Homo sapiens: one gene and its partners. The protein of the gene in region 2 interacts with the protein of the main gene of each other region in a biochemical or structural test. Each region holds a gene or a part of one and is shown on either strand. Other genes may lie near its edges.

Evidence for each region.
Region 1: the proteins of CNKSR2 (region 2) and RADIL interact in a test that uses a peptide from one of them, tested with the Homo sapiens proteins (one large-scale study listed by IntAct).
Region 3: the proteins of CNKSR2 (region 2) and PDZK1 interact in a test that uses a peptide from one of them, tested with the Homo sapiens proteins (one large-scale study listed by IntAct).

The regions. Positions count from the first base shown.
Region 1 is NC_000007.14:4,799,990-4,803,716, forward strand, and holds part of RADIL (ras-associating and dilute domain-containing protein), read right to left. Parts: coding exon 3,557-3,727; intron 2,007-3,556; coding exon 1,664-2,006; intron 322-1,663; coding exon 182-321; intron 1-181. UniProt on the Homo sapiens protein: Downstream effector of Rap required for cell adhesion and migration of neural crest precursors during development.
Region 2 is NC_000023.11:21,380,918-21,384,417, forward strand, and holds part of CNKSR2 (connector enhancer of kinase suppressor of ras 2), read left to right. Parts: intron 1-3,500.
Region 3 is NC_000001.11:145,676,220-145,679,946, forward strand, and holds part of PDZK1 (Na(+)/H(+) exchange regulatory cofactor NHE-RF3), read right to left. Parts: intron 2,427-3,727; coding exon 2,230-2,426; intron 1-2,229. UniProt on the Homo sapiens protein: A scaffold protein that connects plasma membrane proteins and regulatory components, regulating their surface expression in epithelial cells apical domains.

The DNA of each region.
Region 1 (3,727 bases), on a different chromosome or scaffold from region 2:
CCCAGGGGGCGTGGCCGTTGGACAGGCTGGGTTCCCCTCCCAGCTGCAGAGGCCAACCCCACTCTCCTCCCCGAAGGCCTTCCTGTAGCCACGTGGCCACGCAAGCTGCGGCCAGGCTTGCATGAACAGGCGGGGCCAGGCAGCCAGTATGGGGGTGCGGCGAGGGTCCTGGGCCACTCACCATCCCGTCGATCAGGCCCATCCCCAGCCCGGAGGGGCCTCGTTCCAGCTCCACCGTGAAGACGTAGCAGAAGTCCTCGGTGCTGGAGCTGCGGCTGGACGGGGCTGGAGGGGACTCCTCCGCAAGGGCTGCAGAGTCTCCTGGGTGGGGGCCAGGAAAGGTGGGTGGGAGTGAGGCGCCAGGAATCACGACGAGGAATGGGATGTCCTGGCCTGGCTGCCTCTGTAGGGCGTCAGGGATGGGATGGCCTCCTGTGGCTCCCAGGAGACGCTGTTCAGGCAGAATGTGACCGGCAACCCAGACATTAGGGTCGGGGTCCGCCCATGGGCGACACCCCCATGTTCCCTGAGGGAGCACCTCAGTCCCCGCCCCTGGCAGTCCCAGGACACTCGCCCCTCTGGGGGCGGCTGTTTTCCAGCTCCAGGGACCCACGCGGTTCTGTGCCACCTCCTCAGCAATCTCTGCTCCTCCTCCTCCTCCCTCCACACCCAGATGTGGCCATGTGCACCCTGAGGGTTCCCACCGCTGACCAGACCGGGGCCCCAGGCCCTAGCCCAGCCCAGCCCAAGCACCTGCCCTGAGGGCCACCAGCTGGTGCCCTCTCCATAATGGTGATCCTGCCGTGGGTGCACTTAGGTCAGAGATGAGCTGTGCACCTGAGCAAGTGGCCTGCCTGGGACCCAGCTTGGCCAGGTGGCCCCAAGCCACAGGGGACACTCTGACTCTGCACACGCACCCAGGACACTTCGCTCCTGCAAGGCACACCCAAGCCCCTCACAGGAGGCCAGGGCCGGCTGGGGCTGCCTCACCCTCAATGCCCTCCCCAGCCTAGGCCAGCTGCGCACACACACTCATGCACACATATACTCACAGCCATGCACACATGTGCAAGCATGCCCATGCACACGTGCACTTACACCCATGCACAGATGCACACACAATGCACACCATGCAGACACACCCATGCAGAGATGCACACACAATGCACACCATGCAGACACACCCATGCAGATGCACACACCCATGCACACACGCACCAGCACACCCATGCACCTGTGAGCACACATATCCACACGCACAAGCACACAGGCACACACAGGCCCTGCCCTGGAGGACTCCAGCTCCACCTTCTCCCTGAAGACCCCTGGGTTCCCCCTCAGCACATCCTCTCCACTGGCTCAGCCATCCCTTCCTCTGCCCAGTGCAGGAGTGACTCTGAGCCACTTTCTAGACTCTCTCCCTCCCAGATCACAGTGAGTATCTGCCCAAGACGTGTCAGCGACTGAGCGACCGTGTGGCCCAGCTGCTGGGGGCTGAGCAGCCCTGAGCCCTCTCCATCTGGCCCCGTCTCAGGTTGCAGGTGTCTGTGGGGCAGGTAAGGAAACCTAGGACCCAAGGGGGGAACGATCCCAGGGGACCGGCCATCAGGGTGCTGTGCGGGGTCTGGGGTGGGTTCCCGCCTGAGCACCAGGCAGGGCTCACCTTCCGGAGCTGCACCCCGGAGGCCGCTGAGTCCGTTCCTCTGCCTCTCTGGGAGCGCTTTTCCACAGGGGCCGCCGGACTCTGGCCAGTCGGGGTCCCCAGGCTCAGGGCCAAGTGGAGTGCTGGGAGGCGTGAGCAAGCAGGACGAGTCCGTGTGCGGGGGGCCAGCCTGGGAGCCCCCACGGCTGGGTTGCCTTCCAGGGGGGGCCTGTGCCCAGGGAGCCCCCCTCAAGGGAAGAGTACGCTCCGGGGCCACTTCCCGGGCTGCTGGGCCAGGGTCCCTGGGAGCCAGGGGGCAGCTCGGGGCCTCCAGGTGCCCGTCAAGGACCACGTGGTGCATACCCTAGGGAGAGGAAGGGTGACAGCTCAGGTAGAGGAGTGGCCAGGTGGACACAGCACTCGGGCAACTGGGCAGCCTGCAGCAGAAGGGCCGCCAGGCCGCGGGGCAGAGGTCAGCAAAGGACTCCCGCAGCCTGTGCAGCTTGAGACGCGCAAGAGGCAAAGGGGCTTCCCCGCCATCCGGAGCACAGCCTGCGCTGGGCCAGGACTCCCGGGGTTCCCAGAGCTCCCGCCTGCTGCCCCCAGCCCAGCTTCCAACCCTTCTCCTGTCCTCCCGGGCACCTCGGGGCACGCTGGCTGGGGGGCCCCCTCCCCAGGTACCTCGGGGCATGCTGGCTGGGCCCCCTCCCCGGGTACCTCGGGGCACGCTGGCTGGGGGGCCCCCTCCCCGGGTACCTCGGGGCACGCTGGCTGGGCCCCCTCCCCGGGCACCTCGGGGCACGCTGGCTGGGCCCCCTCCCCGGGCACCTCGGGGCACGCTGGCTGGGGGGCCCCCTCCCCAGGTACCTCGGGGCATGCTGGATGGACCCCCTCTCTGGGCACCTCAGGGAATGCTGGCTGGACCCCCTCCCCGGGCACCTCGGGGCACTCTAGCTGGGGGGCCCCCTCCCCGGGTACCTCGGGGCATGCTGGCTGGACCCCCTCCCCGGGCACCTCGGGGCACTCTGGCTGGGGGGCCCCCTCCCCGGGTACCTCGGGGCACGCTGGCTGGGTCCCCTCCCCAGGCACCTCGGGGCACGCTGGCTGGGCCCCCTCCCCGGGCACCTCGGGGCACGCTGGCTGGGGGGCCCCCTCCCCAGACACCTCGGGTCATGCTGGCTGGACCCCCTCCCCGGGCACCTCGGGGAATGCTGGCTGGACCCCCTCCCCGGGCACCTCGGGGCACTCTGGCTGGGGGGCCCCCTCCCCGGGCACCTCGGGGAATGCTGGCTGGGTCCCCTCCCCGGGCACCTCGGGGCACGCTGGCTGGGGGGCCCCCTCCCCGGGTACCTCGGGGCACTCTGGCTGGGCCCCCTCCCCGGGCACCTCAGGGCACGCTGGCTGGGGGGCCCCCTCCCCGGGTACCTCGGGGCACGCTGGCTGGGTCCCCTCCCCGGGCACCTCGGGGCACGCTGGCTGGGGGGCCCCCTCCCCGGGTACCTCGGGGCACTCTGGCTGGGTCCCCTCCCCGGGCACCTCGGGGCACGCTGGCTGGGGGGCCCCCTCCCCGGGTACCTCGGGGCACACTGGCTGGGCCCCCTCCCCGGGCACCTCAGGGCACGCTGGCTGGGGGGCCCCCTCCCCGGGCACCTCGGGGCACGCTGGCTGGGTGGCCCCCTCCCCGGGCACCTCAGGGCACGCTGGCTGGGTCCCCTCCCCGGGCACCTCGGGGCACGCTGGCTGGGTGGCCCCCTCCCCGGGCACCTCGGGGCACACTGGCTGGGCCCCCTCCCCGGGCACCTCGGGGCACGCTGGCTGGGTGGCCCCCTCCCCGGGCACCTCGGGGCACGCTGGCTGGGTCCCCTCCCCGGGCACCTCGGGGCACGCTGGCTGGGGGGCCCCCTCCCCGGGTACCTCGGGGCACACTGGCTGGGAGGCCCCACTGCCAGGCCTGCCAGGGCTGCCGGGGCTGGCTCTGCTCCGCAGACCCCACAGAAAGTGGCGGACGTAGAGCAGGTGCTGGTAGATGCTGTCGTCCAGGCAGTTGGCTTCCAAGTCCACCTGGAAGCCGTCGCTGGGCAGGAC
Region 2 (3,500 bases):
GAAAAAAATTGAGTCTAAAAGTTTTAATTGTTCATGGCTTTTTATTGTTTAGTGTCTGATTAAAAACAGCAAGTATAGTCTTCAATGTGGAATCATTGTGTTGAATTACATTCGGTGAGGGAATTCACAGTTTTCATGTATAGCATAGGCCTGTATTCCTCAAAATGGTATATTTTTGTGGTTGTGGAAGCCAAATGATCAAAAGAAGCCAAAGAGTTGTGTTTTTTTTGTTTTTTGCTAAGCTTTTTAAAACATTATATTAAAACAAACATGGATATTATATTCATGATGTAGAAAGCAAAATTGGCATTATTTCAAAGATGAGACCAGAGACTTAACAGGAATTTTAGGCTTGCAACAGGCTGTTTAAAGCTGTATTCTCCAGACCTCCCAGGGCTGAGTACACTCTTTTGAGCAATTACAGATGCATCAGTGGAAAAGTTGGAGAAGTGGTGGTTGAGTTTAAAAAAGGTAAAATTAATGTACTCTGTTTCCCTTTTTTTCCTATTACCACAAGGCACAAAATATGACCATTTTCAGTCGAGGTCATGATAATTGTAGCATCTTAATTTTGTTTATTTGTTTGATCCATACACCTGCAGTCAGGATGAATTCCTTGAAAATAAATCTCATCCGATCTCATTCTCTCACTTCTTACCCTCATCAGTTTAAAACAATTTAATGACTTCTCATTGTTTTTAGGATAAAGGTCAAAGTCCTTAACATGGCCTATAAGACTCTTGAAGGTTTGGCCATTGCCTATGAGGTAAGCGTCATGCCCAGCACCAAGTATGCAGGCTGCCTCACCGTCCTTCCTGTTTGCCTACCACTGGACATTTGCACTTAATATGTTCCCTATCCCTCTTCACCTAGTTAAGTCTTACTCACCCTTCACGTCTTAGGCTTTTTCTCATCCACCTTAGGAAAGCCTTTCCAGATTTGTTAAATCACATCAAATCCTCAGTTATATGCTGTCCTAGTACCATGTATATCTCCTGTGTCCCATTCACCAGTTTTATTTTTATATTAATTTGGATGGTTATTTGATATCCAACTCCCCCACTAGATGAGTGCAGGGACCCCATCTATTTCTTGTACCAGTGTGTAAAAAAGTATCTGGTATGAAATAGGCACTTAGAAAATATTTGTTGAGAGAAGGAATAAATTAATTTATTCACAGATTACTGGTCTGTCAGCAAATCTGCTTTCCTAAATGACAATGCACGTAAAGTCCCTTATAATGCTCTAATGGATACTTCAGTGCCAACTTGTATATTGTGTGCCAGAATACAGTAGAAGTAGGGTTGCTTTATCCATTTCTCATAGTTGTAGTGCTCTAGCCAATTCAAAGATACGAATCATGGTTTAAACTTATTTTGTTACAAAATATTAATAATTTCAGGAAATTAATAACACTTTGGTGTTTATGCCATATTATAAATAGTATAAATATTACTTACTAATATCACTTAGTAAGACAACATGATAAGCAAATACTTATTAAAACATTAAAACACACTCCTTCTCCTAAGCATTTATTTCCCTTCATTCAAATTTTCTAATTGTTTCTTCATTTGGGTATTTTTTAAAGAACTCTATATATCTTAGAATGCATGATGGAGTGAAATTGATCAGATGTCTTAATTTTGTCCTCATAAAAATAAAAACAAAAAGCTCATATAAAAAATTAAAATGCATTATTCTGTTGTGAGGATATCCTTTATTTGTTAATTGGGACGATAAAATGGAAAAACAACCCTTGGGCTTAATGAAACCATTATCTTATTTATTATATTTAGTGTTCAATTTGCATTTTTATTAATAGGAATACAATTAAGGTATTTAAAGGTGCATCTTAAATCAGCATTTTCTTGTGTAATTTTTCACCGTTCCCTCTGATTTTGAAAAAAAGAAAACTTTAAAAACTAGATGTAAGTTTATCATTACTAATTTTTGAAGGGCACTTGTTAAGAACATACGTACAGAATTATTGCAAAGCATAGTTTGCTAAATACAGGTGCCTCAAGTGGATTTTCTATGAATTACATGCTGCTAGATAATCACTAGTAGGCAACTTACCAAAATTTTTCTAATAAAGCCTGCCTCCTCCCAATTTAGAATCATTAAAATACAAATCAGAGTAAGTGAAATTGTAAAGATCTTAATAGGCATGCCAGTTTGTTAACTCTTTATAAAACACCATCAGGCTTAAATGCTCTAGCTAGTACTGCAAAACAATGGATTGCAATTGTGCCCTGATTTGACTTGCAAACAACTATTCTACAAGATGGAATTTTTAAATTTTAAAGATGTATTTAATTTATTGTTTGATTTTAATTTAAATCACAATCATTAATTCTAATGGAAGTTTTCATTATCTTACTCTTGCAATTTCAGGAAAAAAGAGTTTGTTGCTATTTGCATAAATGCATTGAACTTTAAATTTTACTAAAGTGCAGTAATAACTGTTTTAGCTCTCTTTGTTCATCTGTTGACTATTTTACCACAACATAAAATTGTTTGAAAAATCAAAATTTATTTAGTAAACCAAAACTTGCACTGACACCAATATATGATAGTTTGTCATGATAAAAATATTGTTACATAACTAATATCAAGTATAGCATACATGACTCTTATGTGTTTACTTGGCATTAATGTTCTTAGAAATTAAGTAGGTTGGATGGTCTTTAGATACAGTGGTAGATAAGAAGAAACCTCATTAAATTAGTTGCGTTTTTAAATGTTGCTCAATATCTTTTTTTTTTTTTGGTGTTTGTTTGAACTTTTTATTTTGTTCCAGATACATCTGCTATTTTTAAAACAGGCTTGCAACATGTTTTCTTAAGTAATAGCTAGAACAAATCGATGGAAGCCTGGCTTAGATCCTAGATTTTCCTTTTTTCAACTTATTTACCAAAGATTGTAAAAGAATCTATTTTCTAGTAACTTGTTAGTTATACTTAGCAATGTAATTTATTAGTAAAAACCTTTAACAATGCTGGCATTAAATAATACAGCTGAATGATTAATGTTAACACTGGCTGAATTTTTGTTTTAATTTTGGTGTGTTTTTTATGTGTATATAGGAACTTATTTTGTATATTTTTTCAGAAAATTGATATTTTAATTTTGTGAAAATCATTTATATTTTGGTTTTCAAAACAGGCCATTGGGATATTAAATACATATAACAGAGAAAGTGTAGAGATTTTGCTCATGATGCTCAAAACAGACATATAGTAGTCCAGTGGCTAGTTTTCCTCCTGGCCTGCTGGAACTTACGTAGAAACCAAGTTTGATGTGGTATAGAGCTAGCATGATATGGCAGGGCTAGGTGCTCTTTCCCCATTTCCTATTATATTGGTGTCAGGATGAGCTTTGTGGCAGTCTCTGTTGGCACTAATGTTACATTAAATCAAAGGAACAAGGCTTCCTTATCCAGAAGCCTGCTCTGTTGCCTTCTAGCTGTCAGACCAGAGACTTTCAGTTTGATGTTG
Region 3 (3,727 bases), on a different chromosome or scaffold from region 2:
ACCAAAACAGAAAAATTACAATTAAATCATTCTATGATAAGATCAGGAGGGGTCAGAATCCCCTTTACAACAAACAGCTGCAGCAGCCGCCTCTGATTTCTGCTTGACTTTCCACCAACTGCAAAATGACTCATCATTTCTGGCAGCTTCAGTTGGTTCTTAAGCCAAAAGCTAGCTCCCTATGGCTTCTCTGGTCCTGTTGTGCCCCATAGGACACCTTAAAAAAAATGTGTGGCCCGGGCGTGTTGGCTTATACCTGTAATCCCAGCACTTTGGGAGGCCGAGGCGGGCGGATCACAAGGTCAGGAGATCGAGACCATCCTGGCCAACATGGTAAAACTACTAAAATACAAAAAATTAGCTGGGCATGGTGGTGCGCACCTGTAATTCCAGCTACTCAGGAGGCTGAGGCAGGGGAATCGCTTGAACCCGGGAGGTGGAGATTGCAGTGAGCTGAGATGGCACCACTGCACTCCAGCCTGGTGACAGAGCAAGACAACGTCTCAAAAAAAAAAAAAAAAAGTGTGCTCCTTCTTACATGTAATAGCCTTTCAAATTCTTGAAGATGCTCTCTTCTCCAAAGCCTTACTCAAGCTAAATACTCACATGGTGGCTTCCAAAACCTCTTCCCTGGTTACCCTTGTCATTGCCTTCTTAAAGTGAAGTTCTTGAAACCGGACACAATATTGATTGAACAAATAGAACATTTAGATGTGTGAGGCATTATTCTACATGCTCTGAATATTCCAATTCAACCCTCATAGCCACCCTTCGCTGTAGCTACTACCCCTCTCTTACAACTAAGGAAACTGAAGCACAGAGAGAGGTGGTAACTATATTACCAGGTATTCCAAGTATGGTCTGACCAAGTAAGTACAGTAAGATGGTCATCTCTAGAAGCCAAGTGTCTGTCAGTTAATTTTTAAATTACCATATTTGGATGGGGCAACCACTTGGACTATGAAGTTTCTGGTCTTTTTCTGTAGTCCTCAAATCAGGTCTCACCATGTGGTATTCATACAATTTACTTTTAGGTTAGTATAGTACATCTGAAATTTATTCTTATTTCTTTAGTTTTCATTCTTTCTATCCTAACTAAATATTTTGAGTATTAATTACACCATCCAGCAAATGAATTATCTAGTGCCACTTTAAGTATGTTAATATATTTTCCATATCTCCTTTCAACTTTAAGCACATAAACGGTTAGGAACAAGTAGCATGCCATTAGAGACTTCTATTCAAGTTGATATTCAGGTTGATATCAAGTATTTTCTAGGTATGATTGTTCAAGTAGCTAAAAAAAAAAAGCCATTAATCTAATTAATTGTTTAATCCTGCTTACAAGATTATCTTGAAAAAATGTGCTGGGGAGTATGGTATAATGAATTACGGGTCCAAGAATTTGGGTTCAGATACCACCTTCAGTCTTTACTAAGCTGCGTGACTTTAGCAAAGTGCTTAGTCTCTCTAAGCTTCGGTTTCCTAATCTATGAGGAGGGCCTAAGATATCACCACCCATCATATTCCCCCCTCTGTACCGCTTATTTTAGATTCTACTATCATTGTATATCACAGAGGACATTTATCTTGTTCATCTTTACAATCAACACTTAGCAAGACAGATGGTACTTAGAAGGCCCCCCAGGTTATCTGTTAAACTAGACAACCTCAGTTCTTGTGTTAAAAGTAAAAAAAAAAAAAAAAAAAAAAAAAAAAACCTTAAAACATGCAGTAGTGGGTGTTATGATAAAGAGCTGTTAAGAGAAAATAAAGTTAGTTTGATTCAGGTTGGTCTTGGTCTATCTGTGTTTCTTTTTTATTTGCTAAGGGCTTACAAGTTGTTTAATAATCCTTTCTAGGCTTTTATGTGCAGTTGATAGCACTTAACTGACCTAAAGCTTAAAATCTAATTGTTTCCTATTTTGGGAACAATTTTATTTCCAGGCTTATATTCTCCATAGATTTTCTCAGATCACCAAGAGTAAGCCTGCAGTTATATTCACAAATTCTTTCAAAATCTTAAGACCAAGGACTTAAAACTCATTTATCAATCATTTGGCATTCTCTTATCACTACCAATTTGAGTTGAGCTTCAGTTTAGCCTTAATGATGATTGTTATGCCTCTTCCAGTTTGAGGAACAAAGTCCTAACTCAGTGCAAAAGTTGAGGTCATGAGTGAATGGGCCCAGCCTTAATGCATGAATATATGGCCTTGTATTACTTACCAGTCTGTACATGTTGTCCGTCTCTTTGTCTACCACCAACAGTGAAGTCTGATCTCCACCCTTTCTAATCATTTCTACCACACTGTCATGATCCAGGGTTTCCACAGACTCGCCGTTGACAGCAACTACCAGATCATTGTTCTTCAAGCCAGCCTCCTCTGCTGGACTTCCAGAATCTATGTCCTTGATGATTTGACCTACCCTCCCCCAACCCCAAAAAATAAAATTATCAGTAAGTCCCCTAAAAAAATAAAACAGATTTTCTGCTGGAGCCCAAAGCCCTGATGAAACAGATAAAAAAGGCATGCTGAGTACAACTACCACCCCTTCCACCAGCATCCCAGGAAGCTTATAAGCACACTATCTAGGCTCGTTTCCTGCTCAGAACTCACCCCAGAAACTAACCCAGCAATTAACAATGAAGGGGTCTTAACGAAAATAATCCTGTTACTAAAAGCGTCTGACATTTGATTTTGGCAAAATAGCATATTAAAAGGCTGCAAGTTCCCAGAAAGTCAGTGGGCATACTTGTAGCCACGCGTCTTATGTAAAAGCTGTCATAAAAGATGGGGAAGAATAAAGAACAAAACCCAAAACTTTGGACCTTAAGAAACCCAGGCTGGCATTTTAGTAGCAATTGGGTGTGTTCGGTTTTGAATATATTTGTATATACATGCCTCCATGTGCTTTGGCCTTCTGGTATCTTCACCAGATGCTGCCTTTTTTTTTTTTTTTAACAAGTTCCTGTTTCACTTTTCCAGCTAGCTGCTGGGTATCTCCAACAAAATATCTCATAGATCTCTCAACTGTAATGTATTCAAGCCAAAAATCAGCTCTGCCCATTCTCCATCCCAAAGCCCCTCCTCTTGGTTACCTGTTAGTGGAGCAACATCATCCCAGTCACCAACACTTGGCAACTGATTCTTCCCCAGCATCCAGTCCCCATATCTAGACGATTGCTAAGTCCTCTGATGCTACCATAATACCTTACACATCCCACTTCCTCTACCCTGAATGCAGTTTGTATTAGTTCCTGCCTAGAATTCTACCTAAACTATTACAGCACCTTACCTACTGCTTTCCCTTCCCCAGTCCTTCTGTCTGATACAGATCTGCCTTCAGATCCATCTTGGTGCACATTCCTAACCAAGTCACTTCCTGGTGCAACAGAATGAGCATGGGCTTTGGAACTAAACAACTATTTGACCTTACATAATTACTGTATCTTCTCCAAGCCCTCAATTTCAGCAGTTCTTCTTGCATAATTGTTAGGAGTAATTGAGATGTGCAAAGCCCCCAAGACATTATAGGCTGGTTTTTGTTCTTCTCCCTTATACTGCTCAAAAAACAACTCCCCATTGTCTGATAAGCCAAGTTCAAACTCATCAGTCTTGCATAGAAGTCCCCTTGTCACCTCTCTCCAACCTACCTTTCCAACGAATTCTTGTACTACACATCATGTGCCAATTAAACTGTGCCAGTGTCTCCTGACTGTGTT